4 separate regions of the Homo sapiens genome follow, and all the other regions are linked to region 1. Evidence: fine-mapped QTL for protein levels in blood plasma. A gene starts in region 1. Each other region holds a variant in brackets. All regions are shown on one strand. Distances are between the middles of the regions.

Evidence for each region. PIP is the posterior inclusion probability: the model's chance that the variant is causal. Protein levels are from antibody-based Olink assays in UK Biobank. Linkage for the fine-mapping came from a reference panel and not from the study's own genotypes, which makes the PIPs less certain.
Region 2: its variant is fine-mapped to the plasma level of the FHIT protein (UK Biobank, PIP above 0.99).
Region 3: its variant is fine-mapped to the plasma level of the FHIT protein (UK Biobank, PIP above 0.99).
Region 4: its variant is fine-mapped to the plasma level of the FHIT protein (UK Biobank, PIP above 0.99).

What each region holds. Positions count from the first base shown.
Region 1 is chr3:61,247,241-61,255,336 of GRCh38, forward strand. It overlaps FHIT (fragile histidine triad diadenosine triphosphatase), which reads right to left and starts at 4,212. Exons shown (of 10, transcript NM_002012.4): 1 at 4,061-4,212. LOC124909387 (a long non-coding RNA gene) reads left to right here and starts at 4,352. Exons shown (of 2, transcript XR_007095939.1): 1 at 4,352-4,387. RefSeq lists enhancers at 2,801-3,080, 3,361-3,490, 3,631-3,760, 3,891-3,950, 4,015-4,309.
Region 2 is chr3:56,812,201-56,820,309 of GRCh38, forward strand. It overlaps a transcript of ARHGEF3 not described here. Among named protein-coding and RNA genes, the nearest start is that of ARHGEF3, 14 kb to the left of the region's middle. The variant T/C (reference allele first, on the strand shown) is at 3,521.
Region 3 is chr3:60,830,801-60,838,909 of GRCh38, forward strand. All of the region lies in intron 3 of FHIT (fragile histidine triad diadenosine triphosphatase), which reads right to left. Among named protein-coding and RNA genes, the nearest start is that of MIR548BB, 220 kb to the left of the region's middle. The variant T/C (reference allele first, on the strand shown) is at 3,596.
Region 4 is chr3:59,979,348-59,987,456 of GRCh38, forward strand. The region is part of intron 7 of FHIT (fragile histidine triad diadenosine triphosphatase); the gene reads right to left. It overlaps LOC105377112 (a long non-coding RNA gene), which reads left to right and starts at 5,556. Exons shown (of 3, transcript XR_940885.3): 1 at 5,556-5,600; 2 at 6,252-6,291. The variant G/A (reference allele first, on the strand shown) is at 4,263.

The DNA of each region.
Region 1 (8,096 bases):
TTCCTGTTGCTCCTTCCCTGTTCCCTGCATCACTTCTTTTCAGTAACTCACCTCCTTATCGTAACCTCATGGCTATTGAAGTTGTCAGCTTTAGAAAGAAGCACTGCCACATCCCCACGGTCATTGCCCCAGGATTACTCACCAGCTGGATGACAACTGCCTCACTCTAACCCTGAGCCTCCTGGGATAGGACCAATCCTTTCTAGAGATGGACAGAAGGCCCCACTGACAGAAACAGGCTGCTTTTAAATCAAGGATTTAATATATAGGTGGAACCATAGATCAGGGGCCTCTCAGCAGGCAGTACCGAGCCAAAAGCTTCACTGTCTCTCTGCCCACACAAGAGAGTGTCACTGTGCTGACAAGACAGGTTATCAAGAGTTGTGAGGAACTTCATATTTTAAATGTGATGACCAAGTGTGCTACTCTAAGAAAACAAGTGGCAAACAAATCCTTTTATAATATAAATACCTGCTTAAAGTTTTAAATCTTGAGGAAATGTGAATTTTCATATATCAGGCTTACAATAACAAAAATAAGAGCTATTATATTTATCTATTGACTGCAAGCTGTTAAGAGCCTGACAACATGCTCAAAGCTTTAAACACACTTTCTTCTTCATCATCACTGTGAGGTAGAAATGCTTATTATCCCTATTTTAAGAGAGAAAACCAAGGGCTAAGTAACCTGTCTAAAAGGCACAGCTGGGAATTAAATCATGGGTCCCCAGACAACCCCTCTACTGCTTCTCTGCTATGTCTTACTATATAGATCACTTTCTCATCTGAGAAGTCACAGATATGGACATTCCCAAAGAGACAACCCCTTGGAGAATGATCTCAAAGGCTGAGATTTTTCTCTGCAATGTACATGTTGAAAGCAAAGTAACCTCCTACATCTTATATTTCAAAGCTGCACTTCTGCATTAAAAGAGTAAACAGATTCAATGAAGAGATGTGGGAACAGGGTGCTTATGAATGCAATGCCACAAGTACTTTTTCAGTGTCTACTGGTGGTCAGGCACTGTGGTGGAAGCTGAATGATCAGACTATCAGTTGGGAGAGCGTGGGGGTGGGGGCATGGGGGTGATGAGGAGAACTTCTCAAATAGACTGTTTCAGGAATGTTTAGCCAATAATTCATAAAACTGTTACTTTATTACCTAACTATATGGAAATCATCTTTCAGAAGAGACCAGAGTTACCTGCCTTATTATCTGTGAATACATAATTGAAAGGGCCAATATGTCTTCCAAAATGAAAGTCACAACTTGATAGATTTCTGAGAGTTCATATTAGAGGGTCAGATTTTAACATGTGAATGCAAACATAGTGTCAGAATTTGTTCTCAAGTGTCTGAAAGAACAAAAGAGAAAAGAGTAATGGGAGCCAAAACCAGACTAACTTCCAAAATAGAAACAGAGCATGTTGAAGTTGCATAAACACACAAATAAAGATGGGGACACAAAAACATTTCCTAAAGCATTCTATCAAAGGCTGCAGGAAAAAGGCCAAGACAAGGATACCAAATAGAAAAGCATAAGCCTAAAAAGGTTATCCACACTACTGTGAGGACTCCAGAAACCTGCCTTCTTGCAGAAACGGGATACTTTTGACATGAGGGCATGAGATGAAGATTGCAGACTACTTCGTAACACACTCTCCTCATTTATAAAATAAGAGTTAGATTAGATTATTTATAAGGTCCTTCCAGTCTGAATGCATTAAGTCCTTATCATCTATGTGGTCCTTGCACCTTAAGAGAGATGACCATATAAAGAAGCTCAAAAAACATTTGTTGAATTCATGAAGTATTACAACCTTACCAATAATAAATAAGATAATTTATAACAATTGGTCCTGGTCTGTGGCCTTGAAAGAGCAAATTAGAGGAGAAACCATTATCTAAAGAGCTACACATCTGGTGTTCCTGCTAGCTGACTGCTGGTGGAATGAAAATAACCCTGGACTTGAAAATAAGATGCTTGGTTCTAGTCTAATCTCTGACACAAACCAACTGTGTGACCTTGGGCAAACTGCTTTACCACCTGGGCCAGTTTCCTAATCTCTAAAATAAAGGTATTCTAAAACTATATACATATATATATGGAATCTTTATTATAGGCCAAGAAGTGTTCCAAGATCTTTGCATTAGAATTAAATGATCTCAAAGGTTTTTGCAGCTCAAATGTTTAGTATCTAAGTACAGAGGCAGCATGGTATAATTAAAAGATTCCAAATTCTGTAGCCAGAAAGGTTGGACTCCTCCTCAGCTCTGTAAGGTAAGGTCTTTCTCTAAGCAGAGACTGTTAAGCAGAAGGGCTTACAGTCTCAGTCCTTTTATTCACCAGTGTTTTAACTTGAACAAGTTACTTAACTTTCCTAGCCTTAGTTTTCTAATCTGTAAAGTTGATATAAAAATGGTTCTCACTCTCATATAGCTTTTAAGAGGATTAAATTATAACACATATATTTTATTGAATATATATTATATTGCTAGCTGTGTAATCATGGGCTATCTTCTCAAGTTTTTTCTCATATACAAATGGGAAATGTAGTATTAAAAAGAGATCATGTGAACAGGTTCTAAATGGTCAAGTGTTAGTGGTTTTGGAAGCATGTACGTTAATACTTGGAACACCGTATACAACAATCCCATATCTAACACTTAGAACAGCATATGCAATCAATAACAACACACACACACACACACACACACACACACACACACACACACACACACACACACACAAACCCTAGACTTCTTTCTTTACTAAATATTTCTAGTCCAGGTTGCAGCAGGTGGACACAGGCCGGCAGCCATGAACGCAGGTCCACATGGGAGTTGTAGTTCCGAGTCAAGCGGCTGCTCTACAGAACGGCTAGAAGCGAGACTTCGTCTCCCAGGAGACATCTCGCCGTGCAAAATGGCACGCCACGAGGTGGAGTACCTGCCCGACGAGAAACAAGAGGCGGGACTGCAACTCCCAGAAGCCTCCGCGGCCAAGGCCTCAGGCCGCAGGCTGAAGCCAAGGAGGGAGAGTTCAGGTAGATCCGGCTTAACATCAGGTGCGAGTAGGGACCACCCTTGGTAGTCTGGGCCCGGCCCAGGTCAGAACCTTACTAAAACAACCACTGTGAGTATTTTCTATTGGTCCCAGCACATTTCTGAGAGACCAGAATAATAATAGCAGTAAATCTGCAAGTGGTAAACTTTCACAAGCATAACCTCAATTTAGATTTCGGCTTCAGGCAACATCCTTTGGCCACTTGACCTGGGAGCATTGAGCTCCTTGTTTCCCAGATAAGCGCTGTGAGTGGCTGTTCCAAGGTAACACAGCGAGGGCAGAATGTGAGCCTACAGAGAAATCTGCAGATGCATCTCAAGTTCCACTAACCTGCCTCCTTACCCCCCACCACCACCAACTTGGATATACCTTTAAAATTCCCCCCTTTGACGCTAAAAATAAAAACAACAACCATAAAATAAGTGTAAGAAAGTCCGACCAAGTACCGATGAGTTCTCCCACAACAATAAATTCGATGCCTCTTTGCCTGTTTTTGAAGTAGTAATGTAAAATTATCTCCCAAAATGCTGCCTTCTCTATACTCCGGTTTGCTCCTGTCCTGGGCACGTGTTCAGCAACCCCTTAGGGGAATCCAGAGCTGCGTGTTTAACACAGACCTGTTGGGACGGATTTTCGCTACTTGTCTATGAAACTGACGAACCATCCCAAAACGGCGGGTGCCGACTACACCCCCAGAGCCAAGAGCTGTGGCGTCCCCGGACCCGCTGGCGTGGCCCCGTGCCTCAGTTTCCCCAATGTATAAACACGGTGGAGGAGGAACGGGTTAGGGCTAGGGTCGGTGCTTGGGAATTGGGGGGCCCGAGTCCCCACCCTGAGACCCTCGTGGGGCGGAAGAGTACTCGGGACAGAAGCCCACCGCCCCGTGAGCGGCGCCGGCCCCACTGGGCTCCGGGGTGATGACCTGACGCGCGTGGAAACCCAGACCCGCGCCCCAGAAACAGTATTCCACTTGGGCTTGCCTCCCCGCCCCTACCTTCCAGGATGTTGACAGCTGGGAATGAAAGGCAGAGGGAGGGAGCGCGGGGCCGGAGCGCCGCCTGGGAGTGTGCCCACTGGGTGGCCGCCTGAGGGACCCGGGAACAGAGGGCAAAAAGTCCTGTGACCGGACAGAGCAGAGCGGGGACTGCAATTCCCAGAAGACCCCACGGTAGGGGCGGGACCCAAGATGGCCGCTTGTCTGGGGACAGGAGCGGAGGCCAATACGCGCAGAGCATGCGCCTACGCCGGGCCAATTGAAAGCCATAGTGACAGTAACCCTGATTCAGGGGCGGGAAACACTGACCACAGAAGACAAGTTGAGGTGAGAATCCCCTTACAAGGGGGTTTGGGGCATAAATCGCACAATCTTTGGCTTTTTCTAACTAGAAAAAGAAACATGATTCTTTTCACGTGTAACGAAAGGCTGTACCGCACTTTTGCTTTTTTCTTTCCTCCCAAAACGCGTTTAACTATCCCTTCACGACTTCCCACTGGCTGGATTTCTTTTCGTTTCATTTCCCCACTCTGGATCTTTCTGGATTCCTTAAGCCTTCTTTTCTTTATGTGTCTCTCAGAAACACAGACTTGCAGTCCCTGGCTTGATCCATCAAATAATGTGGTCATTTACGACTACGCTCAGCCCTCCCTGGCATCCTAACAAAATTGCACCACATGCGCCCCTTCTCTTTTCCTTTCTGTCTTTTCTGTGCTGTTTTTCTCCTTAGCATTTGTCGTTACGAAGCATTGTATAAAATTTACGTATTTATCTTTTTTACCATCTTACTTTCTCACTAGAATGCAAGATCCCTGCAGATGTGGATTTTTGTTTTGGTCACTGTAGTCTTTCTAGCACCTAGAAAAGTGCCCAGCACATAGTAAATACACCGTATTTTCAATAATTGAACGAAATCTAGAGTGACCTTTCTCCCCTAGTCTCCCTTTCTCTGGTGCAGATCAACCCGTTTCTGACCACCATGGTTCCTTGTGCTTGTTCCCCTGTTTAATCCAAAATCATTATTGATGTATTCTGTGCCAAATGCCATGTGGGTGCTGGAGAAATCATTGATTCAGACCCAATTCCTAACCTCAAAATGCTCTGTCTAGTGACGTATGAAAAGTAAAATTAATTTTACAATAAATGCAATTACAAATTGCAGAACACCTACGTAATTTTCACAAGGTCATGCAGCTCCTAAGCAAGGACTAGATTCCTGGCTGCAGACTCTTGCCATTACATCGGGAAAAACAAAGAGCAGTTTTCTCTCAGACAAACACTAAGATAGGTCCCCATTTTCCTTAGCACCATTTCCTTTCTCTGTCTCTCACTTTTTTATTTGGCCTGATTCATTACATGCAGGCAATTACATCAAGTCTTAGATCTCTCATTATTTCTAATATTTGAATCCCATGGAGAGTAGCAAGGTGTCCTACAAAGTGTCCTGGTGTGAAAATCTGATGTCCTTGGAAGCTTGACTCTCAGAGAATGTCACATTGGATTATAGTTCATCACACAGACACCATGGCCACATAAAATATTATCAAATTGTGAATAACAAAGTGAAATTGAAAAAAAAAATATAGTTAAAACAGCAGGAATGTGAGCAATATATGTACAGACTGATTTTGTGCATAGAGATTAAAACACCTGTTCAGGCTTCCTAGCCTAATCTTCTGTCAATTTGGGGTCATTTCCTGTAATACAATTCTTTGTTGCTTTTATGAGCACAGACTTAGCTCAGCAGTCCCAGCTATTCTCAAGCTGATCGACATGAGAGATTTCAACACATGTGTCAGCAGCCAGACTAAACGTGGAAGAAAATCAGAAGCATTTGAAACTGTAAAGCTCAATAACTTTCCTCCTCCTGAGAAAGCATCAGCCTATAATCATTACATCTTCTACTTAGCAGTCAAAAGGCAAATGTCATGAACATACTCAGGGTCTAAACAGTGGTGTCTAATGATTATTGCACTGTTGTCAGATAGCCTAATATGAGCACATAGGTATTACTTCAGCTGTGGATAATGCTGACTGCTGGGCTCAAGGTCACCCACGACCTTGAGCAACAGATACATTCACAAAGAGCATGAAGACATAGAACTTGCATTGGATTCAGGACCTTCAAGTGCCAAGACAATCAGTGGGAGGTTACTGTCTGATCTGCAACTTGACTGAATTAATAACCACCTTAGTATGGGTTCTCCCAGAAGCAGATCTGGAGACAGGTATTCAAGAGCAAGTATTTTATTTAGGAGGTTATCGCAGGAAACACCAGTAAGAGACTAAGAAAGTGAAATAGGGAAGAGAAGACCAAAAAGATGCCTTATCTAGCACATTACCGCTAGAGGCACCCAGAACTTAATCCTCCTAGAAATCTCTGGGAAACAATATGGAACATGTACCTTAGACTGAGTGATTCCACCAAGAGGACAAGATAACTGGGTTGTTTAAACACCAACTACCGTCAGTCAATGATTGGGGGCAGCTTTCAGGGATTATTAAGACCCTGGCTTGTCTGCAATGCTCCAAGAGTAGACAGAGTTGCCTCAGTGGCCACAGAAAGCCAGAGATAGAAGAATTAAGAGTCACATTGGTATACGCTGAAATAGTAAGGGAATATAGCATACTGGCGGGGCACCAATAATATCTGCTACAGGTGGCTTTGGTTTACCACAAGCTCATGTCACTGAAACTAACAGAATAAGAATAAGTCAGAAACTAAGTAGATAAATACAAAAAGCCCAAGCAGCCTACCACCTTCTATCACTCATCAACAATTAAGATAGATTGTACTTTCTAAATCCTCACTAAGACATACAAACCAAACAATAGCAGAAGCCTCATTTACACTGGGGAATAGGAACTCTTTGGGCATTTAAGGAGGGTGCTTTGGGAGCTTTGGGGCATGGTAGTGCAAGGAGAAAGAAGATTAAGAAAAGGGGAAAAGGACATTTAAAGAAACGTGTTAAAAACATTGTGTTTTTCATTTTATGGTCTTGAAACATGAGTAAAGGGTGTGGATATTTTAAGAAGGTAGCATCAAGATCTGGGTGACTTTTAGACCCAGAAGACAATTTTGTGAAAGACTTCTGTGGATTGTGCCATTATAGTACTTCTTCATAGCAAATATCTTTACTTGAAATTATACCCACATTTATTTGTCCTTTTGTTTATCATCTGTCTCCTTCAAACAAAAGGTAAACTCCATGAAGGTAAGAACTTTGTTTTCAGGCCAGGCACGGTGGCTCATGCCTGTAATCCCAGCACTTTGGGAGGCCGAGGTGGGCAGATCACGAGGTCAGGAGTTTGAAACCAGCCTGGCCAACATGGTGAAAACCCATCTCTACCAAAAATACAAAAATTAGCCAGGCATGGTGGCTCACACCTGTAGTCCCAGCTACTTGGGAGGCTGAGGCAAGGAATCACTTGAGCCTGGGAGGCAGAGGCTGCAGTGAGCCAAGATTGTGCCACTGCACTCCAGCCCAAGTGACAGAGCGAGACTCCATCTCAAAAAAAAAAAAAAAACAAACTTTATTTTTGTGTTATTCATTAGTCAGCACTCAATAAATATGTGGTTAACAAATGACTATATTATGGCTACAAAAAGTAAACAGGGTAAGTACTAGAAGAGCCTGACATTTGTACCATTTGTATCATTCAACTAAATCATAAAGGTAAGAGGCACTGGTAACTACACCATAACCCCCCATTATCACGAAGCTTGGGGCCATCCTTGTGTGTAGAAAAACTGGAGGTCACATAATGTTCTCTGGCTTTAGTCAAACACTTCCAACAGCATCCTCTTCAAGCACACATGGCCTACAAGGAAATCTTTACCATGGAAACAGAATTTCAAAACTAAAAAGTCCGTAGAGGTCAAAGAGTTCAACCCTCTGCATAATTCATCTTAGCCATATGTTACAGGTCATAATTCAGACCTTCAGACAAGAATCTTTATTTATTTGTAATTTATTACAAATTTATTTGAAAAAATAATATCTAATACAAAAATATTATATTAGAAAAAAGGAGA
Region 2 (8,109 bases), 4.4 Mb before region 1:
TCTGAGATGGGACCAAAAAATAATATGCAGAATACTATAGTGGGCTGTTTGAAATTTTGAAAGGTAATTCAAATAGGCCCCTAATTTTAATGTTTAGCTTCTTGAAGAGTCCAAACCACTTTGAGAAACGGCTCCTACAGTGTTAGACTGTGGGGGCCTCTCAGATATGATAGAGCTTTCAGTTCCTTCCAGCTGTTTACACACTAATTCCTGAACAAGGTGGACTTGCCAGGAAGGCTGAAACTAGTGACAAAGGGACATCAAATAGCTTATTTTCAAAGACACTGTGCAACATGCTCATCTGCCCTTTTCCTTCCCTTTAAAGGTTATTTCTTTCATTCCCTTCTCTAGGTTTTTGATTCCAGGTTAAACTCTACAAAAATGTTTTTTTCCTCTTAACTTGCCATGCTCACACCTAATGCCATTTGTATCAAAACTCTGTTTTCTTGAGGTGGGCCCCAAGGGGCTGACTTTTAAGGGAGGGGGCAGATTTTGCCTGATGTTTCTGCAAGATTAAACATGGTGCTTATCTGAAGTTCAAGGCTGATGATAAATTATAGACTCAAGAACTTTTTATTCAAAGAAGCCAAAGGAAGAAGGAAACTTCTCTGCTAGCTGCTCCACCAAAGGGGAGTCATGTTCTCCCCTCCTAGAGCCTTACAAGAGATAATTTTGAGAGCTCATTCTGGTTTAGAGACAATACATGGTGAACAAAGCTCATCTGTCATTGAGTGGGAGGTAGGGAGGAAAGAAGGTAAGAGAGAATTAAAATTGTAAAGCCAACATCATGTGGATTCCTCCTTGAACTTTAATAACCCAGTGCTGCCTGCAGGCTCAGAAAAACCAAATGCAATGGGTAGGTACAAGGATTGCTCTGGTGCCAGGAAAATGCAATAAGACATAACTTTTATAAGGTAGGCAATGAAAGAGTGCCCTGCAGGAACAAAACAGGCTTTTAACATCTCCAAAGTTGGCAGCCAGATGCCTGAAACATTGGTTTAGTGCATCCAAAACACACAACAGATAGAACCACTTTCTTTAAGATGAAGTCATCTTCCAGGAGAAACAATAGCTGGGAAGGCTGGGTTTTTATGATTCATGGGAGGAGGAGAATTTGATCTGTATTTTCTTTGCCACAGTCTATCCCATTTTAATGCATGTTAGAGGTTTTCCACATGTTAGGCAAATTTTCTAGAATGTTTTGAAAGGGAAAAAATTCTGCAGACTGCCTCAGTTACTGAAAGAGTTCTCTTTCTCCCCTGGCTGGGGAGGGATCCAGTTCTGTCTCACCGTGTTATCGAAAAGATCTGAAACTACAACTCTTCATTTGGATTCTGCTGTTATGAAATGCAGTTTGGGGTATCTTGTTACACTTTACTCCCAGAAGTGTTAAAGGAAGTGCCTGTCATCAAAATTCAAAAATAAATATAAAAATGATGCTGGCAGAGCTCAAAAACTAAAAGGATCAGCATTTTGCTTCAGTTTCCTGTTCATAAAACTTTATAAAAACAACCCACCCATTTAAAAAAAACCTGTAACAATAGTTCACTATTCTTTTCCTAAATGCTTGCCTCATGCCACTCTGAAATTAGGTGCCATCACGTTTCCTGAGTTATGGGCCCCAAACACCACATCCTTTTCCTCCCTCCCACACCCCCACCCCACCTGGCATCATTCCTGAATTTAGATGCTTCTCCAGTTTCTGAGCTCAGTAGACAGATGCCAACATTCTCCCTCCTACCTGTCCTGAAGTGGCCAAGCATCTGTACCAGCTGGAAGCAGGAATAATTGAGGCTTCCTTCCCCCAAATTAATTCTCACTTCCTAGAGAAGCTTTTAATATGGAAGGTTAAATTATAAAGTGAAGAGCTAGTAAACTGAAAAAGAATAAGATATTTCCCTCCCACTCTGCCTTTACAGCAAAATTTTCTTTGTGGAATACTCAACACTCTGTCCTTCTTTCTGGAAGAACATAGAATACAAGCTCTAGAACAAGCTTTTCCAACCCATGGCCCACAGGCTGCATGCATCCCAGGATGGCTTTGAATGTGGCCCAACATAAATTTGTAAACTTTCGTAAAACGTTATGAGACTTTTTTTTGCGATTTTTTTTAAGCTCATCAGCTATTGTTAGTGTTAGTGTATTTTATGTGTGGCCCAAGACAATTCTTCTTCCACTGTGGCCCACGGAAGCCAAAAGATTGGACACCTCTGCTTTAGAATGAGAAGCCTGGGTTCAAATACCAAGTTTTCACTTGCCAACTATATGACTTTGGACAGTTTACTTAATGATGACAAACATCAGTTTAAGCATCTATAAAATGGGGATATGAGAGTTTCAAGGTTTTAATGAGTTAAAAACACATGAATAATCCAATAAGATAATATGTATGTCAGATTTCTAAGCATACAGTTAGCACGTCATGCTATTATTAACCCTTCCGGTAAATAAATCATCCTTCTCCCTTTTTTTTTAAATGAATTAAGGAAAAAAGGTGGAATTTGGAGAACTTTTCCAACACTCCTTGCTTCCAAAGACATTAATTCTTTGATTTAATCTTATAATTTCAAAAAAGGATATGACTGTTGCACATATATAAAAGAAGCAGCAGAGTGAAGAGTGAACTGACCTAAATTAGAAGACATGGGCCAGGTGCAGTGGCTTACACCTATAATCCCAACACTTTGGGAGGCCAAGGTGGGAGGATCACTAGAGCCCAGGAGTCTGAGACTAGCCTGGGCCACAAAGTAAGACCTCATCTCTACAATAATAATAACAATTATTATTATAACAATTAGCCAGGCACAGTGGCATATGCCTATGGTGACAGCTACTCAGGAGGCTGAGGCAGGGTGATTGCTTGAGCCTAAGAGTTTGAGGCTGCAGTGAGCTATGATCGTGCCACTGCATTCCAGCTTGGGCAACAGAGCGAGACCCCACCTCTAAAAAAATTAAAAAAAAAAAAAAAAGAAGACATGGTATACAATCTGGCCCTACCATTAAGTCTGTGGTCTTGGGCAAGTCAAGTGATCTCTCTGAGACATAGATTCTTGAACCATATAACAAGGTGATTTAAACATAAATGTGTATGCTTCTGTGATTCTATTAAACAGCAAAGACTGAAGTGTATATGGAGTATTATCTTGATTTTATGCTATTTAATTTCAGGAAAGCTTTCAAATAAAAATTCATATCTTATGTACTGATGAAAGCACCCTGTCTAAAATTAGCATGTTTGGTATAGGCAGCCCACATTTTGGGTTGGTTCAGCATGGTAATATTTTATGAAGGCTCATCAGAAAATTAAGCTCAATGTACTCATTTGTCAAGAAATGCATATGCATATAGATTCTTTTAATATCAAATGGCAAAGCAAACAAGAGGTTGAAACAGAGGAAAGATCAACTATGAGAAAAGAATTACTGAGGGAAAATGGAGACAGACTACAAATGGGATAGAACTGGCCTAAAATATACCACTGTCACTTAAAAATAGGTACTCGGTTACATAGTGCCTGTGT[T/C]ATCTTTACAACAGCATTTGGTTCCTACACTGTCTTCTTCCTACAGGCCTGTTATGACTATGAGAGCTATCTGTTCCTTCAGTGGACCAAGTCTTGCTGCCTTGTGGATTCTGCCCAGTCACAGCTTCCCTTCTGCCCTTCAAGGGTGGGCTGCTTGCATCTAAGTGGTAGGGCCATACCTAATTCTGTTCTGGATATAACACAGATGACTGACTGGGCTTGGTGGCTGATGTCTATAATCCCAGTACTTTGGGAAGCTGAGGCAAGAGGATCACTTGAGGCCAGAAACTCAAGACCAGGCTGACCAACATAGTGAGATCCTGTCTGTACACAAAATGTAAAAATTTAGGAGGGCATGATGGTGCATTCCTATAGTCCTAACTACTTTAGAAGCTGAGGCAAGAGGATGGCTTGAGCCCAGGAGTTGGAGGTTACAGTGAGCTATGATTGTACCACTACACTCCAGCCTGAGTGACAGAGCAAGACTCTGTCTCTAAAAAACAAAACAAAAATACACATCTAGATGGTTGCTGGCATGAGATGCTAAACCACAGGCTTCTCAAAGCTGAGGGTTCTGTGCAACCCTGGCCAAACTTCTTACCCAAAATACTTACTTACATTAATGTTGTCCATTTATAAGAATTAGAACTAAAAACAAAGATACCTTGCAGCAACTTCTAAATAGTGCCCCATAAATAACAAATAGCACTAGAATTACTTAATAAATCATAATCTTCATTATTCTCTAGCATCTGTTTCCCCTACTAGATTGTACGCTCCAAAAGAATCATGAATCGCTTGTACAAGGCTACATCCCCATTGCCAAAAGATGCCTGGCAAGTGATGAGAGCTCAGTAAATGATGCTGAGAGCCGAAGAGGTGTTTGCTCTCTGCCAGGCACTGTGCTTTGACTTTAATGAAGTATCTCAAGTAATCCTTACAACAATCCTATGAAATGAGTACTTCTATAGTAGGAGAAACTGAGGCACAGAGAGTTCAAGCAACTTGCCCAAAGTCACACAGCTAGTAAGCAGCAGAGCTGGAGTTCAAATGCAAGCACCTTGCTTCTAGAACCTCAAGTTCCAATTCTGAAGCGGAACGTTAATTCACAGGCCAGTCACAAACCAGGGAGTCCTGAGGCCAGAGCCTATGATGCAAGGGTCAAGGATTTGAGCCTATATGATATGACTGAAAGAACACTGAATGAGAAGCAGTGCTGACTTGGGTCCAGTCCTGTGACGTTTTTGCTCACCAGCTTCCCCTGCTGATCAATCAGGGGGTTGGATGCTCACTCAAGTCCTTGTCAGGTGTCAACCCCAAGTGCTAGAGTCACCCTAGACATAATCTCACATCCAGAAAACTACAGAGCACAGTGTGCTCTTCCACCTTCCACGAGGGAGAACCACCAAAATATCAACCATCAAGCAAGTTACTCAGTCTCTCAGAACTTCAGTTTCCTCATCTGCAATCAGGACCAAATAGCACCTACTTCAAAGGGTGGAGGTGAAGATTAGAGAGAAACCTGGTTAAGGGGCTACCACATAGTAATAATTTCATAAACAGTAGCTAGGTTTATTATGGTCCCAAACAGAGCGAGGAGATAAGTCTGGAGGAGGAACGAATCTCTTCAAAACCCAGGAACCAACCAACCAGTTGGAAAGACAGCTCTGAAACTCAGATTTTTAAACAATTTCTAACAGTAGACTACATGTGTGGCACATCATCCAAGCAAAAAGTTCCATATCAGATTCTCTTTCAACAAATGGAGTAATAAAGACAGGTTTGAGTTAACTTCAGCTGGAACAGAAAGAACCATTATGACTTGGGAAGTTCACACCTGAGTGCTGAAAAGCTAGAAAATAATGTTAGGTGCCATTTGCCTTATGCCAGACCTGTGACAAGCATGTGACATATATTACCTTACTGAATCCTCACAACCTGCTGAAGAGGGTACTGCCCTGTTGTATAAATGAGGGCATGGAGGCTCAGAGAAGATAAGTAACTTGCTCAAGATCACACAGCTACTAAATAGCCATGCCAGAACTTACTTAGTCTGCCAGAACGTTGATGGTCTTAACCACAAAGCTACACCCTTCCCCAAAGATAGCGTGTCATTGGCCCCAGCATGCCCCGTACCCACAGGGCAATCATGTCCACACCATGGGCAAGTGGCTTTATAGGAAGGCCACGCATGGGGGATCAAGTGGCCTTGGGTTTTGGTCCCTGTTTACCCACAGACTGTGGCAGCTATGGACAAGTCATTTAACTTTCCTGGACCCTGTTTTGATCAAACAGAATGTACTGGATTAAAGTTTTTCAGTCCAAGTCTTGTGGAACATTAATCACTTACATTTTATACCCGAGAGGTTAGGGATAAAAGAGGAGCCAAAGACATAATGAGCTAACCCTCTGTCCTGGGACTCTGGCTAGGGGAAGAAGTGGAACACATTTGTTACCAAACAGAACTGGGTGACCCTCAGTTCCCTTCTATCTTGAAAATTCTGAAACTCTACTGAAAATTCTGAAATTCTCCTGAAAATTCTGAATTTTATGTGACAGGAGAGGACAAAGAAGAAAAGGACTTCAGGGAGTCATGTGGGAGGTGGCAGGGTGGCCATCTCAAAGCTATGTTTGCACAGCGACTACAGTGTACATGCTTAGCTGGTAAGCTTATTTGAGGTGCTTCTGGAGTGAGGGGGCTGGTGGAGATAATGGGAAAGGAAGCTAAATTCCTCCTCTTGAAATGACTAGTATTGCATACAGCAAGCACTCTATAGATGCTGATAGAACTGAATTCAAAGGAAAAAAGACCTGGATCAAACTGATAGAAGTTGAGCTGCTGCTCAAGATGTATGAATATCTCAAAAATGCTAACAATTGCTTTTGTTCTCAGCCACCCACCCTGCCATAAGCCATTTTCAGTCTCAAGATCAATTCTTTTTCGTGAGAATGAGCATACCTCTTTCAGCAGGATAACCACAGGTAAACCTCCCCCTGCACCCCCTGCTGCCATCCTACGCGCTTGGAATATGAACAAAGGTGAACTGTCTGGCTGATAAAGAATTCTGCTTGTTTTCATTTGTATCTTTGCCCAGGGTCGTGGCAAATATTGTTTCATGGGTTTCCAGCTTTGTTTTTGGAGCTCAAAGGATAAAGTGCTCCCACAAGAAAGAATAAAGAGAGAGGAAAGAAGGTAACGAAAAAAACTATTTCATTCAAACAGCAGAAGTCCTTTCTTCCCAGGAAAGGTGACAGTATGCTACATCCTCTGTCTGAGCTGCCAAAGTCTCCATCTAGAGATACTGACAGCAACAATAAACTTAAAGAATTTTTTTATACTTGTATTCTAAAAACAGGACTTAAGAGAAGACTAAAGTCTTCTGATTCCCAGCTGATGTTTTTACCATAAAACTAGGCTGCCTCATGAACATATTCCCTGGGCCACAAAAAGGTTGACTCATAATAGGCACTCAATAAATATTTGTTGAATGAATTAAAGAACAAAAGAAAGGAAAAGGCACAGAAGGTATGTATCAAGGGCTGTCAACATAAGAGGACCAATTGGTTGACATTTAAAAAGCTTTGTGTATCTTTGAACTCAGGTCCAGAATAGTCCCTCCCTCATCCTTCTCCATGTTTTAAAATACCATTCATTATTCAAGTCTCAGACCAAGTTTTTCTTCTGAGAAGCTTTCCCAGGTCAACCCAGCCCTGTGGAGCTAGTTTATTCTTTTGAGTTCTAACAATTCTTATTACTACCACTTAATTAACCATGTTCTACCAGGTGGCAGTTTTTTTTTTTTTTTTTAAAGACAGAGTCTAGCTCTGTCTCCCAAGCTGGAGTGCAGTGGTGCAATCGTGGCTCACTGCAGCCTTGACCTCCTGGGCTCAAGTGATCCTCCCATCTCAGCCTCCTGAGTAGCTGGGACTACAGGTGCACCACCATGCCTGGCTAATTTTTATTTACTTATTTATTTTTTGTAGAAATGGGGGTCTTACTACGTTGCCTAGGCTGGTCTTGAACTCCTGGGCTCAAACAATCCTCCTGCCTTAGCCTCCCAGAGTGCTGGGATTATAGGCATGAGCCACTGCATCTGGTGCAACTTTTTTTTTTTTTCTCATTTTGTCATCCAGGCTGGAGGTCAGTGGCACAGTTGTGGCTCACTACAGCCTGGACCTCCTGGGCTCAAGCATTCCTTCCATCTCAGCTTCCCAAGTAGCTGGGACTACAGGCGTGCACCACCATACCCAGCTAATTTTTTTAGTTTTTGTAGACATGGGGTTTCACTATGTTGCCCAGGTTGGTCTCAAACTCCTGGGTTCAAGTGATCCTCTCCCCTTGACCTCCCAAAATGTTGGGATTACAGGGGTGAGCCACTGCACTCAGCCTAAGCTAATGTCATCATTTATTCCTACATTCAACTTTTATTGACCTACCAGTTTAATGGTCAATTGAATTTTTGTGCTGTTATACTACTGCCAGGGGAGGCCAGTAGCAACTGGTATCTGCTCAGCTGTATAAGACTCTACCCAGGGAGGTACTGTAAGGATGTGCTGTGCCCTCAAAATAACTTCATGCTAAAATTAAG
Region 3 (8,109 bases), 420 kb before region 1:
CACAGCAAAGCAATCCAATTCACACACACACACACAAAACAAATGTTGCATTTATGGAAGTATTAAAACATCTCATCCTTGTCCTTAGCTTAACATATTAATGAGAATTTCTGAATTAATCTCCAATCGTGAACTGTGTCTAGGTGTGATATAAGGGCAGTAAATACTGTGCAGCTTGCTTCAGGCATGTTTTATGACAGATTCTCTGACAGATAGAAAATCTTTAAGATTAAATTATTTCTGTATTTTCCTAAGAAACTCATCAGTACTAACAACCATACCACTTCCCCAACTAGTTGATAAACAGAAAAGAAAATATTATTAAGTGATGGCACTTGAGGAAATAGTTAAAAGGAGAAACTCAGAACATAAGATTGTGATTATATATAATGAGGAGATTCTCAAAATGGCACAGAAAGGAAAGGAACGAGTTGAAGCTGAAAAACATATGTTTTTAGGAGGTAAGTTATTCCATAAAGCAATTACTAAAATGTGAGAGTTCTTCTCATGGTTCTCAACCTTATACTCTGAAAGAGAACTTCTTATAATGCAAGACTAAGAGAGCCAATTACTTCAGCACCAAGGTACATCCTAAATCTCTGGACTTGGCAGTTCAAAAAAACTCTTGGAAAATGTTCTTCTAAAATCTTCACTAACAGCCCTGACTTTAGAAATGTAGACTCTAAAAGGATGAATAAAAACTAACCAATTAGATAGCAAAATGGAGAAGAGAGAGCACTGAATAAAAAGACCTGCCAGAGTTCGGGTTGTACCTCTGCCACCAGCTTCAGACTTAGTTCATATTTACAATAAAACCATAATCATAAAAATTAATAATTATGGAACACTTAGTATGCCAATAACTTTTCATATATTATCTAATTTAATCATCCTAACAACCTATGAGGGAGACACCACATAAGAGAAAAGCAGTTGAAGAGTTTGTCCAAGACCACCCAGCTGCTCTGAGTGATGGGTTAGGATTCAAACACGATTTTTTTGGACCCCAGAGCCCAACCCTTAACCACTCACTCTGCAGAATAGTTCAGAAACCTCCTAGGATGATCTAAAAGGCTTCTTTCAGCAATAGGGCGCTAAGATTTATGAGACATGATTGTATAATGGAAAAAAATCTCAGGTTTTTGAAGTGACTTTGTAGCCCAGTTGAGCAGCTTCTTCTCTAAGCCTCAGAATCTTAGATAACAACACTACTTACCTTACAAGCTGGCCTAAGGATCAGAGATAATACTAGAGCCCTTAGCCCCAAGTAATAATAATAATAATAGGCAGCATTTATATAATGCTCATTATGTGCTGGGCACCATCTAAACATTTTTTTCCCCACATTAAAGTATGCAATCTTCACAATGACCTTAAAAGTACTATTATTTTGTACTTTTTATCTAATTGTATAAGAATACAATTAGATAAAAAGAAAAAAAAAGAGTTCTATTGTTTTGATTCCTGTTTTACCAATGAGGAAACAGAGGCAAAGAGAGTTAAATTACTTGACCTAAATCACAGTTACTAAGTTGCAGATCTTGGATTCTGATCCAGACAGAATGACTCACTGGACAACCCAAAACATATTGGAGGCACTCCTACTGATACATAAAGAACCTCCTTGCCATGCCCAATGTCTGTGTCACTCTCACCCAAAGTAACAAATTTAACATAAACTTGGGAGGATGAAATACATAGGGATGCCCAGATAACCTGCCTACTGTCATTCCGCAGATTGTGCCTTTAAAAAAACCAATTTCAATAGAAACCAGCAAGAAAGAGATACATCAGGTATGTCAGACATACGTGGTCACAACTATTTTTTCTCCTTCCTGGCTAATCACTCCCTTTGTGTTGATAATGTGCTGCTTTAAATCAATTCATAAAAAAAAAAAAAAGCACAGAGGCACCATAAAAGTCGTTTTTCCTGTTTTCAATCTGGAAGAAATTCAGTCTCTTATTCATTTTAAAAACTATTTTAATAATAGCTTTTACTTAACCCAATATATCAAAAATATTATTTCAACATGTTAATAAAAGTTAATAAGAGATTTTACGCTAAGCATTCAAAATTCAGAGTGTACTTTACATTTAAGGCCCATCTCAAATCAGACTAACCTGATTAGTCTGAATGCTCAGTAGCCATATATGTTGCTAGTGGCTACCATATTAGACAACACAGTTCTAGAAAGATTGGCTTAGAAAAGCCCTGGTTGTTGATATTTATAGGTCTCTTTCCTTGGGCTGGTCAAATTCCCCAGAAAGATATCTTTCAATCTCCTGCCTTAGGGGTATAAGCCTGGGTGCCATTGTTCTGAGATTTAAGTATGGGAAAGAGCAGAAGCCCCATCATATTGTCTTTCACTTAAGCCCCGATTTTCATCATTATACCCATCCTCAGCTATGCATGGTGACTCCAATCACGAGCCCTGTAGTTGGTCCAACCCCTCCAGTCTTCCTCCTGGGGAAGTAGGGAGGGAGGCAGTTGGGAGAGGCAGTTCCCAGGCTATGCGGATTGGGCAAGAACTCTGGGGACTGATTAGCAGTTATTTGTCATTCTTTCAATGTTCTTTTAATATTCCTTCATTCCCACTTTCATACATTTACAGTGCCATGAATTCCTGACACGTTCTAGAATCTCAGTTTAGATTTTACCGTTTCTCTCCCCTTTTAAATCAGTCCCTGGCCTTTTAAGGCAGCTTCTACAATTGTATTCTGTGACCTTCTCCTCTATGATTTTTGTTCATATTCCCCTCCCCTTTTTTAACTAACATTTTTTATTTGAAATAATTGTAGACTCACATGAAGGTTGTAAGAAAAAATACAGAGAAGGTCCATATGCCCTTTATCCAATTCCCTTCAATGGTAACATCTTGGAAAGCTATTACACAGTAACACAACCAAGATATTGACAATGACACATTCAAAACACAGAATGTGTCCATCCCAGGGATCCTCTTGTTGCTCTTTAATAGCCACACCCACTTCCCTCCCACTCCACCCCTTCTTAACTTTTAACCACAAATCTGTACTCCATTTATATAATTTTTTCATTTGAAAAATGTTATACAAGTGGAGTCGTACAGTGTGTAATCTTTTGGTTTTGTGTTTTTTTCCCCTTTAATCTATTCCCTGAAGATTCAGTCAAGTAGTTTCATGTATTAATAATTCATTGCTGAGTAGTATTCGATGGTATGGATGGACCACAGTTTGCTTAACCATTCACCCAATAAAGGACATCTGAGTTGTGTCCAGTTTGGGGCTATTACAGATAAAGCTCTATGAAAATTCATGTATGGGCTTTGGTGTGAACATAAGCTTTTGTTTACTTGGGATAAATGCCCAGGAGTATGATAAGTGCATGTTTAATTTTGTAAGAAACTGCCAAACCATTTTCTAGAGTGGCTATAACATTTTACATTCTCACCAGTAACACAATTTCTCTGCATCCTCACCAGAATTTGTTGTTATCATTATCTTTTATTTTAGTTATTTCAATATGTTCATAGTGATAACTCATTGTGGTTTTGATTTGCATTTCCCTGATGGTTAATAATGTTGAACATCTTTTCATGTGCTTATTTGCCATCTG[T/C]ATAACCTCTTCAGTAAAATGTCTGGCCATGTATTTTCTAATTGAGTTGCTTGGATTTTTTTACTGTTGAGTTTGAAAATTCTTTATATATTCTAAATACTAGTCCTTTGTCAGATATGTAGTTTGCAAATATTTTCTTCCAGCCTGTAGTTATTCTTTTCATTCTCTTAAAAGGGTCTTAGGCCGGGCGTGGTGGCTCACACCTGTAATACCAGCATTTGGGAGGCCGAGGAGGGTGGATCTTTTGAGGTCAGGAGTTTGAGACCTGGCCAACACGGCAAAAGCCAGTCTCAACTAAAAAGAAAAAAAAAATACAAAACTTAGCCAGCCACAGTGGCATGCACCTGTAGTCCCAGCTATTCCAGAGCCTCAGGCAGGAGAATTGCTTGAACCTGGGAGGCAGAAGTTGCAGTGAGCCGAGATCGTGCCACTGCCCTCCAGCTTGGGGAACTGAGTGAGACACTGTCTCAAAAAAGAAAAGAAAAGAAAAAAAAAAAAAAAAACTCTTTCACGGTGCAAAAGCAAAAGTTTTAATTCTGATATAGTCCAATATATCACCAATATATCATTTGTTTCCTGTTATGGATTGTGTTTATGTGAAATCTAAGAACTCTTTCCCTAGCCAGAGATTCCAAAGATTTTTCTCTAATGCCTTCTCCTTCTAAAAGAAGGGTTCTTTATTCTGTTCCGTTGATCTATGTTTCTGTCACTCCATGGATAGCCACATAGTAACTATGCAATACTTCTTGAAACTGGGTAGACTGATTGCTCCCACTTTATTATTTCTTTTTCAAAATTGTTTTAGCTACTCTAGTTCCTTTGTTTCTGTATAAATTTTAGAATAATGTCATCTATATATGAAAAAATCATACTGAGATTTTTGATAGGAACTGCTTTAAACCTGTATATCAATTTGGGAAGTATCGGTATCTTTACTACGCTGTGACTTTCAAATCATGAACACAACATTTTTCTCCATTTATTTACATTTTTAAAATTTATTTCATCAACATTATATAGTTTTCAACAAACAAGTTTTATAAATGTTTTATTGGATTCACATAAGTATTTCATATTTTTGAGCTAAGGCAAATTGTACTATATTTTTAAAATTTGTGTCCACAGATTCATTGCTAGTACAAAGAAATACAATTGATAATTTAAATGTCTATCTCATATCCTGCCACCTTAATGAACTCAATTATTAGTTTTTCATTTGTTTGCTTGAGATAGGGTCTCACTCTGCCACCCAGGTTGGAGTGCAGTGGCACACAGGTATTGGCACAAACACAACCTTCTATAGCCTCAACCTCCTGAGCTCCAGCCATCCTCCTGCCTCAGCCTCCTAAGTAGCTGGGATGACAGGCATACACCACCAGGCCTGGTTCATTTGTTGTTGTTGAGGAGAGATGAGGTCTCTCCATATTTCCCAGGCTGGTCTTGAACTAGGCTCCAGCAATCCACCTGCCTCGGCCTCCCATCGTGTTGGGATGACAGTCATCAGTCACTACACCCAGCCACTTACTAGTTTTAAGAGTTGGTTTTGTGTTTTTTCGTCTTTGTAGATCACTTAGTGTTTTCTGTGTAGAAAATCATGACATCAGCAAATATTAACAGTTTTCTTTCTTTCCATCTGTATGCCTTTCATTTCCCTTTCTTGCCTTATTGCATTGATTAGAACTTCCTGCACTATGTTGAATAGGAGTGGTGGAACCAGCCTTGCACTGCTGGACTAGACTCCATTTCGTCGTGGTATATTATTCTTTTAGCCTGAATCCTGTTTGTTAATATTTTGTTCAGGATTGTTGTGTCTCTATTTATGACAGTTATTGGTATATATTTCTCTTTTTTGCACTGTTTTTTCTGTTTTTCATATCTGAGTAATACCAGCTTCCTAAAATGAATTGCGAAGTGTTCTCTCCTATTTTCTGGAAGAGACTGTATAAAACTCCTATTAATTATTCTTTAAATGTTTGGTAAAATTCTCCAGTGAGGCCATCTGGGCCTAAATATTTATTTTCAGGGAGTTTTTAAATGATTAATTCAATTTTTAATAGTTATGGGCTTTTAAATATTATCTATTTCATGATAGGTGAATGGTAGGAATTTGTGTTTTTGAGGAAGTGGCCCATTTCATCTAAGTTATCAAATTTATGTGTGTAGAGTTGTTCATGGCATTTCTTTATTATCCTTTTGATGTCTACAGGGTCAATAGTGATATCTCCTCTTTCATTCCTGATATTGTAACCAAATGCAGGTCCAGATGCCCACTGTTTACAGAGTCCAGTTAACAAGAGTGAGGTCTAGTAGAAAGAAAGTCATTTTACTAAAACCAGTAAAGGGGAAATGGTCAGATTCCCGCCCAAAGCAATCACTTTGATTTTGGGGGAAGGCAGGGGTTTAAAAAGGGAAAACTTGATAAGGAAGGCATGCAAGAATTGTACTAAGTATAATATCTGTGTGTCTTGTTCTGGTAGCTATCTTGGGTCTCAGTCTACCTGGATGGTGAGTCAAGACATCTGGGAATATCTTTACTTCCCCTTTATTCCTGAGGATATTTTCACGGGCTGTAGGACACTGCTTTGATTGTTGATTATTATTTCATTCAGGACTTTGAATGCTTTAAGTTCCTGAGCAGCCATGGCCAGGTTTTTAACTAGCCACTTTGAAGTAATCTCTGGAATTTTGCAGCTGGGTCTCCAAGCTTATTCCGCCTGTCTCAAGATTAGCCCCTGGAACTTCTAAGAAGGCACAGTAATTAGATACTAGTATATACTTAGACAAATGTGAAGGGAGTATATATGGTGAAAAAGGGAGGGACGTGGAGCCTATTTCTAGGCTGAGGAAAAGGCTTCTGCAGTTTTTCAAGGTTGTATCTTGAAAACCAAGAGAAGAGAAAAAAATGTTTTAAAATGCATTTGGAAGTTAAGTTGCCTAGTTACAATATTGGTAATTTGTGTCTTTTCTCTTTTCTTTGTCAGTCTTGCTAGACTGTCAGTTTTATTAACCTTTTCAAAGAACCAGCTACTCTTGTTTTCCTTTGATTAAAGTTTGCATGATACATCTTTTCCCATTATTTTACTTTCGTCTATTGTTATATTGAAAGTGAGCTTCTCATAGACAGAATATAGTTGGGTCATATTTTTTAAACAATTCTGCTAATCTCTTCCCTGTATTATAAGTGGTATATTTAGACCATTTAACTTTAATGTAATTATTGATATTTTAGAATTTACACTGCCATTTTATTTTTTGTTTATTTTCTGTTTGTTCTCTTTGTGGTTTTCTGTTTTCTTTGCCCAGACTTCTTATAAGCTATTTGAACACTTTTTGGAATTCTGTTTTGATTTATCTAAAGTGTCTTTCAGTGCATTTCTGTATATAATTTTTTAAAGGTTTCTCTAGGTATTACTTTATATATTTATAACTAAACAGTTTACTGGTGTCATCATTTTACCAGTTTGAGTAACATATAGAAACCCTATCTCCGCACTTTGCATCCCTTTATCTTCCCCATTTATAATATAATTATTTTAAATACTTCCTTTACATGCATTTACATCCACATCAGAATATTGCAATTTTTGCTTCAAACTTCAAACACAATTAGAGCTCTCAAGAGTACAAATGTTTTTGCTATGTTTTTTTCTTCCTTTCTGATGTTGAAGAGATCCATTTTTAATTGTCTTCTTTCCAATTAGATAACTCTTTTCTTTTCTTTCGAGGCAGAGTCTCACCGTGTCATCCAGGCTGGAGAGTGCAGTGATGCAATTATGCAAATTCTTTTAGTTTTCCGGCTGGGCGTGGTGGCTCACGCCTGTAATCCCAGCACTTTGGGAAGCCGAGGCAGGCGGATTGCCTGAGCTCAGGAGTTCGCGACGAACCTGGGCAACACGGTGAAACCCGTCTCTACTAAAATACAAAAAATTAGCCGGGCGTGGTGGTGGGCGCCTGTAGTCCCAGCGACTCAGGAGGCTGAGGCAGGAGAATCGCTTGAACCCGGGAGGCAGAGCTTGCAGTGAGTCGAGATCGCGCCACCGCACTCCAGCCTGGGCGACAGAGCAAGACTCCGTCTCAAAAACAAAAACAAAAACAAACAAACAAACAAACAAAAAACACAAATTCTCTTAGTTTTCCTTCATCTGATAATATTTTTACTTCCCCTTTATTCCTGAGGATATTTTCACAGGCAATAGGATACTGGCTTGACTGTTGATTGTTATCTGCATTCAGGACTTTGAAAGCTTTAAGTTCCTGAGTCTCAGCAGAAACTCAAAAATAATACATGTAGGAAGAGCTAAAAAAATATACAATAAACCGGATCCTATCGAATTTAAATGTCACCAGGCTACAAGAAACTGATTCTGGCAGAAAAAATAAACATGTGAAAAATAATTACAATAATGTGTGATAAGTGCAAAAATGCAGGTATGTACTTGTCACGATGCTGACACACAGAGAGAATCAGCACTGCTTGAGAGAATCAGTGAAAACTTCTCAGAGATGTGTGAACC
Region 4 (8,109 bases), 1.3 Mb before region 1:
GCCCTCATTGCTTTCTTATCACATATTTTGCATGTGTTTCCATCTCCAAGATTCAGGGAAAACAAGATACTTAGTTGGGAATGTCTAGAGTGGAGACCTTATAAAAATTACTTGACAGACTTGGGAGAGGAAAGCATTTTGCAAAACACCAGCTATGAGAATAAACAATTTTAGAGAATCCCTTGGGGACATTTTTTTTCCTATGGATCCCAAAATCTTTTTTAAATAGAAACATCTCAGGCAGGGGTAAGAAATTATTGGTTAAGCCCATTTAGAACGTGTACGCTGTCATGGAACATTCCTATCAATGGGGCACATTGAAACTCTACACTAAGATATGGTGGGGCTGTGGTGCTTTACTGGATAAATAAGAAGGGGTTTGGTCGCTATACTCCCACCCTGCCCATAAATGAGTAAGCCCGTGTGACAAGAGTACATGTTTTCGAAAAGAAAGAAACTGTGAAACTGAGCGTCACCATCCTGCCACATAAAAAGCAACAGAAATGAGAATTAAATTCAGCACTTTCTTAATGGGAGACTGAGGAAATCTGGGAGATGAAACAGTAGCTCTTCTCCAGTCCTTCCCAGCATAATAAGGTCAGCTGACAACACTGTTCGACAGAGAAGACTTAATGTGTCTGACAGATGGCAAATACACCATATTGACTTTTCTTCCTAATTTAACAAATTTGAATCTTTTGTCAATTTTCTTTCCCCAGTGAAAAGATATTCTAAAACACCACTTAAGCTTACATTGCTCTTTTCCCCCTCTCCCTCTTACACATTAAGTTTGACACTATCTAAAGAAACTGAAGCTAACTCACTAAATTAACTCACCTTTCCAGCTCTTCATGATCATCACAAATTTGGGCATTGGCATGAATGTTAATTCCTCATCTCTGCCAACTGTAAGGCAGATACTCACTTCAGGCCAGAGGAAGGTGGCTGAATGGACAACAAGGATTCCTTGAACTCTTAAAAATAACACACAAAAGTGTGCATCTATATTCTTCATACTTCAAAACTATGTATCTATGTTCTTCAAGAGTCCCCAGTTTTGCCCAGTTCCTGAAGGTATAATGCCTCTGGCTTTAGCTATAGGTTGTTATAATTAGCCCTCATTCTACAGTTTCTAACCGGACTTTGGAATTTTATGGGGTTTGTCTATATAAGATGGATGGGATGATAGCAGAGAAGAGCTTCAAACTAGTGGAGCTCCTGGATCACAAAGCTGTGTAAGTCATCCCAAGTGTGACTCAAGTTCAGCCTGGAGAAGCCATGGCCAGGCCAAGGATAGCTTGTCCCACAAGGAGGCAAGGGGCCGTTTCCCACCACTGCCTCATCCCTTCCACCATGTGAGGACACAGGGAGAAGATAGCATCTATGAACCAGAAAGTGGGCATTCACCAGACAACAAAGCTGCCAGTGTCTTGATCTTGAACTTCCCAGCCTCAAGAATGTGAGAAAAAAATGTTGGTCGTTTATAAGCCACCCAGTTTGTGGTATTACCTTAGAGCATCCCAAATGAACTAAACTACTGTTTTCATAATTTACAATGTGTCCTAAAATTAATTATAATCCTAACTATGAACATGAAATTCTGCCAATGTGAAAATAACATTAGTTTCTCTTGACAACCTTTGTAGTTATGTTACCCAAAAGTATCTATAGACAAAGCATCTGAAGATTTTAGTGGTTATTCACTATTATAAACAACAACCACAAAAAACCCACCACCAACAAAAAAAACACTGGGTCCATGGAGAAATAAGTTTGAAAAATATTTCATTATGCAAAGTAAAATGGATTTATTACAAAAACCTTCTTAGAGCATCTCATGGAAATGGAGTTTAGAAGAATACTATGCTTTAGATTATTCCTGAATCCAGACACATTTTTTTTAAATTTTAACTCAAAGGATTAAAATTTCCACACTTGGAATGCCCCTGTATGAGGAAGAACTGAACGCTGTCCTGTCTTGTCTAAGTTTCAGAGTAATCCCTATGTTTCTAGCTGATTAGCTGGTTTCATAAGGCAAAGGGCCTTCTGAAAATGGGCCATTGCTTCTGTGACAAATTCAATATCCAAATTCTATTGCTGCCCTTGAACTGTGCTCTCTGATTTCCTGCTGCAAAAATGTAGGCCATCAGTGGGGACGTGAAAAATTTGTTCATTACACACAGATTCCCACAGTGGCAGTGCCTGGCCACATTACCGAACCTATAGATAACATCACAGCACCTGACATCCAGCCCACATTTCCTCAGCCTCAGAGTAAAGAACATACCACGGTGCCCGCACATTAACGCAGAGAGATGCCCTTGATAATTAACAGTTCTTATGGAGTCTCTCGAATGCTAAATGGTCAAATAGAGAAGTTAAACACACATAAAACATTTAATGTGAAATGAGGCAAATATGCCAAATTAACCTGAAATGCACACAAAAGCCTTTCAGCTCTGGAATCGATATTAATCATTTTCTGGAATTCAAGAAAAAGTCTGATGTGGTTAATTTAAAATTGTATTTTATGATAGAGAACAAAAATATCCCACAGGATTCAAGGTATCAGTTTACACTACTGCCACTCCTTTTTGCTGCCAGGGTCAGCAAAAAGAAAAAAAAAATTATTGATCTGGTATTAAAAATCAGTTGACTTCACTTCTTTCTGAACAGGTATTCTTTGACCACTAAGCACTGGCTAGTCTTACCTCTCTCTAGTGACAACATGAAGAGATAAATAGACTATTCAAACAGAGCTCTTCGCGTTACATTAGCTGAATAAATAGTGATGTATGGTCTCTTTTCTCAAGCACTGCCTTAGCTTGTGAAGATGAGAGTGAGGAAGATGGGGCTTATGAATCCTATTTGAATATTTAAATAAACACAAAATAACATCCCTGAAGATGGTTGTTTAAGTGGAAAAAGAAGGTATGAAAATCTGTCTTTTAATTGTAGCTTTTGGGGCAACAAAAAATCCCCCAAGAAACTTTTGAGATTCCAGTGTCAAGTGAAATCACAGAAGAAAAAAAAAATTAATTTGTGGTTTTATAAGCAGTATCCAGAGGAAATGGGATGCCAGTCCCACAGGGTTTTCAAAGGCTGCAAAGCTAGCACAAACCAATTCACCTAAAGTGAAGTATATTATCAATAACTAACTGTGATCACTTTTTGGCCTTCCAGCTAAGATCAAGTGTAATAACTAACTTTACTTTGGGAATATTTCACAATGAATTTTTGCCCTCTTTAATCTGCTTTAAGATTTCTGTGCTCAATTTCCGGTATATGCCGTACTTGCAGAAAGGGATGAAGTTCTGAGCTAGGTTAAGTGCTTGTGGCTAACTACAAATGTGTTAACACAATGTAATTAGGTCATCAAACAGCATCATGTTTATTAGGTACCAATAGATAAAAAAAGGGAGCAGGCCTAGACCAGCACATCAGCCCCAGTCCCTACTGTCTTGGAACTGGGATTCTGAGACATCTCCGTGGCTTCTACACATTACTGGCATAATTACTAAATCCAAAGTTTTCTATTTGTAAATTAGAGATTCTAGCAAGGAAAAGATGAAGTCCTATGCATCGTGCATTAGCCAGGATTCTTTTTTTGATTTTTTTTTTCATTCTGTTGCCCAGGCTGGAGCACAATGCCACTATCTCAGCTCACTGCAACCCCCACCTCCCTGGCTCAAGCGATCCTCCCACCTCAGTCTTCCAAGTAGCTGGGACTAGAGGCATGTGCCACCATGCCCAGCTAATATTTGTATTTTTTGTAGACATGGGGTTTGGCTACGTTGCCCAGGCTGGCCTCAAACTCCTGAGCTCAAGCAGTCGGCCCACCTCAGTCTCCCAAAGTGCTAGGATTAGAGGTATGTGCCACCACTCCCAGCAGGTCAGGACTCTTTTGGAACAAAAAGAAGGGGTATATTTATTGGTTCACATAAACACATCCTCAGGAATGTTAAGGCAGAACCAGTACAGTCCTACCTTCCTATTGGCAGTTTTACTTTCTATGGTTTCAAGTTGCCTACAATCAACTATGGCCTGAAAATAAGTGACTAGAGTACAATATTCTGAGAGCAAGAAAAAGACCACAATTATTAACTTTGTACTACAATATATTGGTATAGTTGTACTATTTTATTAGTAGTAATTGATCTCTTACTGTGTCTAATTTATAAATTAAACTTCATCGTAACTATGTACATATAGGAAAAAACAGTACAAACAGAATTTGGTACCATCTGCAGTTTTAGGCATCC[G/A]CTGGGGTCTTAGAATGTATTCCCTTTAGATAAGGCGGACTAATGTATAGTCCTTTCCCTCTCCAGTGTTGGCTTCATTCTCTCAGAATAAAGATGACAACCTGGCTGTGGAAGGTGGCCTCAGGAAGCTCCCAACCTAGTAATCAGAGAAGAATGAGAGGATTGCCCCATTAGTACCAGAAAATCCCTATATTAGCAAAGACAGGGACCTGATTTGGTCAAGTCTCCATTCCTGTATTACCCCTGTGGCCAAAGGGGATTGAGTAACTATAATTAATCCAGTCATGAGGGAGGAAGAGTTGCTGCATAGACCAAAAACAAGAGCCTCTACGTACTGAAGTGATAGGGCAAAGAACATATATTTACGAATTATAACCAAGTCTAAATTGTATTCGAATTCCTAGAAGATCAATGTTACTTAACTTTCCTGTGAATAATACTCTTGCCTCTTACTAAGTAGCACACTATCCCTAATATTCCAAGGTGAAACTCAGTCACTGAGAATTGGGCATGCTGCACCAGACTGTTTTCCCAGTAGTAGCAGGAGATATGCTGAACCTCATATTCTTTCTCTTTACTGCTTTATTATCATTAATGCCTTAGACTGAATTTCTCCAGAACTGATCATGAGACAGGAATCTGAGTACAAATGGATTATTTGAGAGATGGGCCCAGGAAGCACCATTAGGGGAGAAGTGGAAGTAAGACAGGGGAAAAAAGAAATCTACTACAAGAAACATTTATAAGAATATTAGTGCTTCAAGCAATTGGGGCTCAAATCCACTGGGGGGGGCTCTGGAAGACAGCGTGGAACATGCTACCCTCTGAGTTTTCGCACTTACGACATAGGAAGCTGGGGAATTTATCCTCAAATTCCCACTGGTATTGGCTAAACATTGTTCCTAAAGTCAATAATTCCTGACACTTTAGGCCTACACTCTACACCAGCAAGAGAAAGCCCCAGAGTGCAGAGTAAAAGGCATGTGAAATAGAATAACCTTAGCACATATGAGAAGGGTGAGTCCCAGAGAATGGAACCAAGGCACACAGCCTTGGCTAATACCAGTAACACACACTTATGAAAATGTGCCTTCATTTATTCAAATACTTACCAAGCTCCTATTAAGTTTGAGTTTTCTTCTAGATGATGGGCATACACTGAGGGACAAAACAAAGATTATTGTCTTATTTAATACCCAGCACAACTGGGCGGGGCAGGGGCAGATTCCAGGGGCTACATGTCATAATCCTCTTCACAACAGCAACTTCAAATGTGGTCCCTAATCTTAAGAGTAGCAGCAGGGTCAGCAGTATTGGGCTTCACCATTACTAAGCCAGGTGTGTTGAGGTCTATGATCCAGTAATGAACCTGAATCAGAAATGGAATCTCAGATAGGTATTGGAAAAGTGGGAGAGTTCCCATCGTAGGACAGTGAGTTACATTTTGTTTAGGAAACTCTTCAGGGACATCTTCTCTGTGGTGGCTTGTGTCCAGAGGCACTGCAGAGTTGCCTGCTCTAACTCTTGACAGTTGAGTGGGGCATGCAGCTTCTGGACATGGAAAGGACTAAAGTTAATTTGCCCATCTGGGGATTGAACTGGCATCAGTGACTTCAAATGTGCCCTGCAGAGCCCAAATGATCTCCATTACAAACACAGAATGCTCCGCCTTCCAAATGCCACAGAATTCCATTTTATCTGCACTGGCAGGGTAAGGCAGAGTATTTGCCAAAACTCCAGACATAGGGGGTTATTTGTAAAACCTTAGAGTATTATCAGGTGTTGCTTTCAATAAACCATTACACTTGTATAGAAAGTAACAAACTACGTGGTCTAAGGACCAGTTATCCCTATTCCAAAAAATAAAGTGTAAGTAAGTAAAGCAATTTTACATTGAATCTTGAACATCTATGTACATAATTTAGAATTTGCTAAAAGGTAATTTTATCTGTGCTGATTATCTTTACCATTTGGCATTTCCCATCTCAGGGCAATGAGTACAACTTCACAAGTCCAGCTCCGCTTAGCTGTGAGTACTCAATTTCACTAAAGACTTAAACAGAAAATTAAAAATCTGTGAGAATTGGGATGAGTCCTGTCTGTCTTAAAGCAGGGTGAGCAAATATATGTGGCACATGCCCTTAAGAGACATTATTAATTGATCACCTCTCACTTTCACACTGAGCCTAGGCTGAACCTTAGAATCCGTCACAGCGCAGGTGTCCACTCAGTCATGACTGGCCTTCCAGAACTGGGTACTGGAAATGAAACCTACTTGACACTTAGGATACATTTATAGAGCCTGGTCCCCTCAGTACTATACTCCCCTCTCACAAACAGAGAGAGAGAAAAAAAAGAGGAAGAGGAGAGCAGAGAAAGGATGGGGGAAGGAATGAGAGGAAGAAAAAAAACTCTGAACCAAGTATCACTTCCTTTGCGGTCTGCACATGTCAAGGAATACTCCATTTTAAGCATATTATAACGGCAAAAAGAAAAAAGCACTATCAATAGCGGTTCACACTTTATGGCTGCTCACCCTGAAACTGTAGCAGCTAACTTTCTTGGGAAAACTCAGACAGACTCATTCTTTCCAAAAACAAGGAAAGAAGAAAAAGAATTTCCCACATCCTTAAGATAACTGAGAAGCTCTCAGTAGGAGTAAACTGTCCAAATAAAATTCAACGGCACCCCCTTTGGAAGGATAGTTAAGAAACACCACATGTACAAAGAAGGATTAAGATTCCAAATACTGTCTTTTCTCCAACTCGATTTTTCCTTCTTGTGCCCTTACTTCTCAAACAGTTATTCCCTTTGCTATATCACCCAGAAGTCTGTGATTGGATCTCCCTTGGACTCCAAAGGGCTCTGGGTATGAGAAAGTAGTCCAAAATATATATATATATATATATATATATATATATATATATATATACACACACACACACACACACACACACACATATATACACACACACACACACACACACATATATATGTGTACATATATGTCTAGGATTTACTATAGAAAATTTTTAAAATATTTTTATGTATTTATATTTATAATATATTTACATATTTAGTTTTATATATATTTATATAAATATATACATATATTTATATAAATATATACATATATTTATATATATATAAATATATTTATATAAATATATAAATATATATATATAAATATATTTTGTATTATATATTAAAATATATACGTATATATGTGTATATATGTATAGGATTTACTATAGAAAAATATTTCATATTTTTATATATTCATATATTTTATATTATATATTAAAAATATATGTACGTATGTATAGGATTTATATACATATATGTATATATGTATAGGATTTACTATAGAAAAATATTTTATATTTTATATATATTAAAAAATAAAAAAATAAAAATATAAAATATATAAAATATATAAAAATATAAAATATATCTATATATATCTATATTATATATAGATATGAAGATATAAAAAATCTATATATTTTATATAGATATAAAATATATAATTATATAAATAATATAGACATAAAAATATATATTTATATATTTTTTCTATAGGAAATCCTATATATATTTATTTATTTATTTAGGACTGCTTTTCCTGAAACTCTGTAAAAGTTTTCATCATACTAGCTATTTCTTGTGATGAGCCAGATCATCATTCACCTGGTATAAATGAGCTTGGCTGTGAACACGGTTAGAAATTAGAGCCAAGGATGATCTATTAGTTCATCGTGTGTGTCTCATGGGACAAAAGCAAATGTGTTTCTCTAAAGAGTTTTCTTGAATGGTTTCCCAAGTCCAACTTGAAATCACATTCACA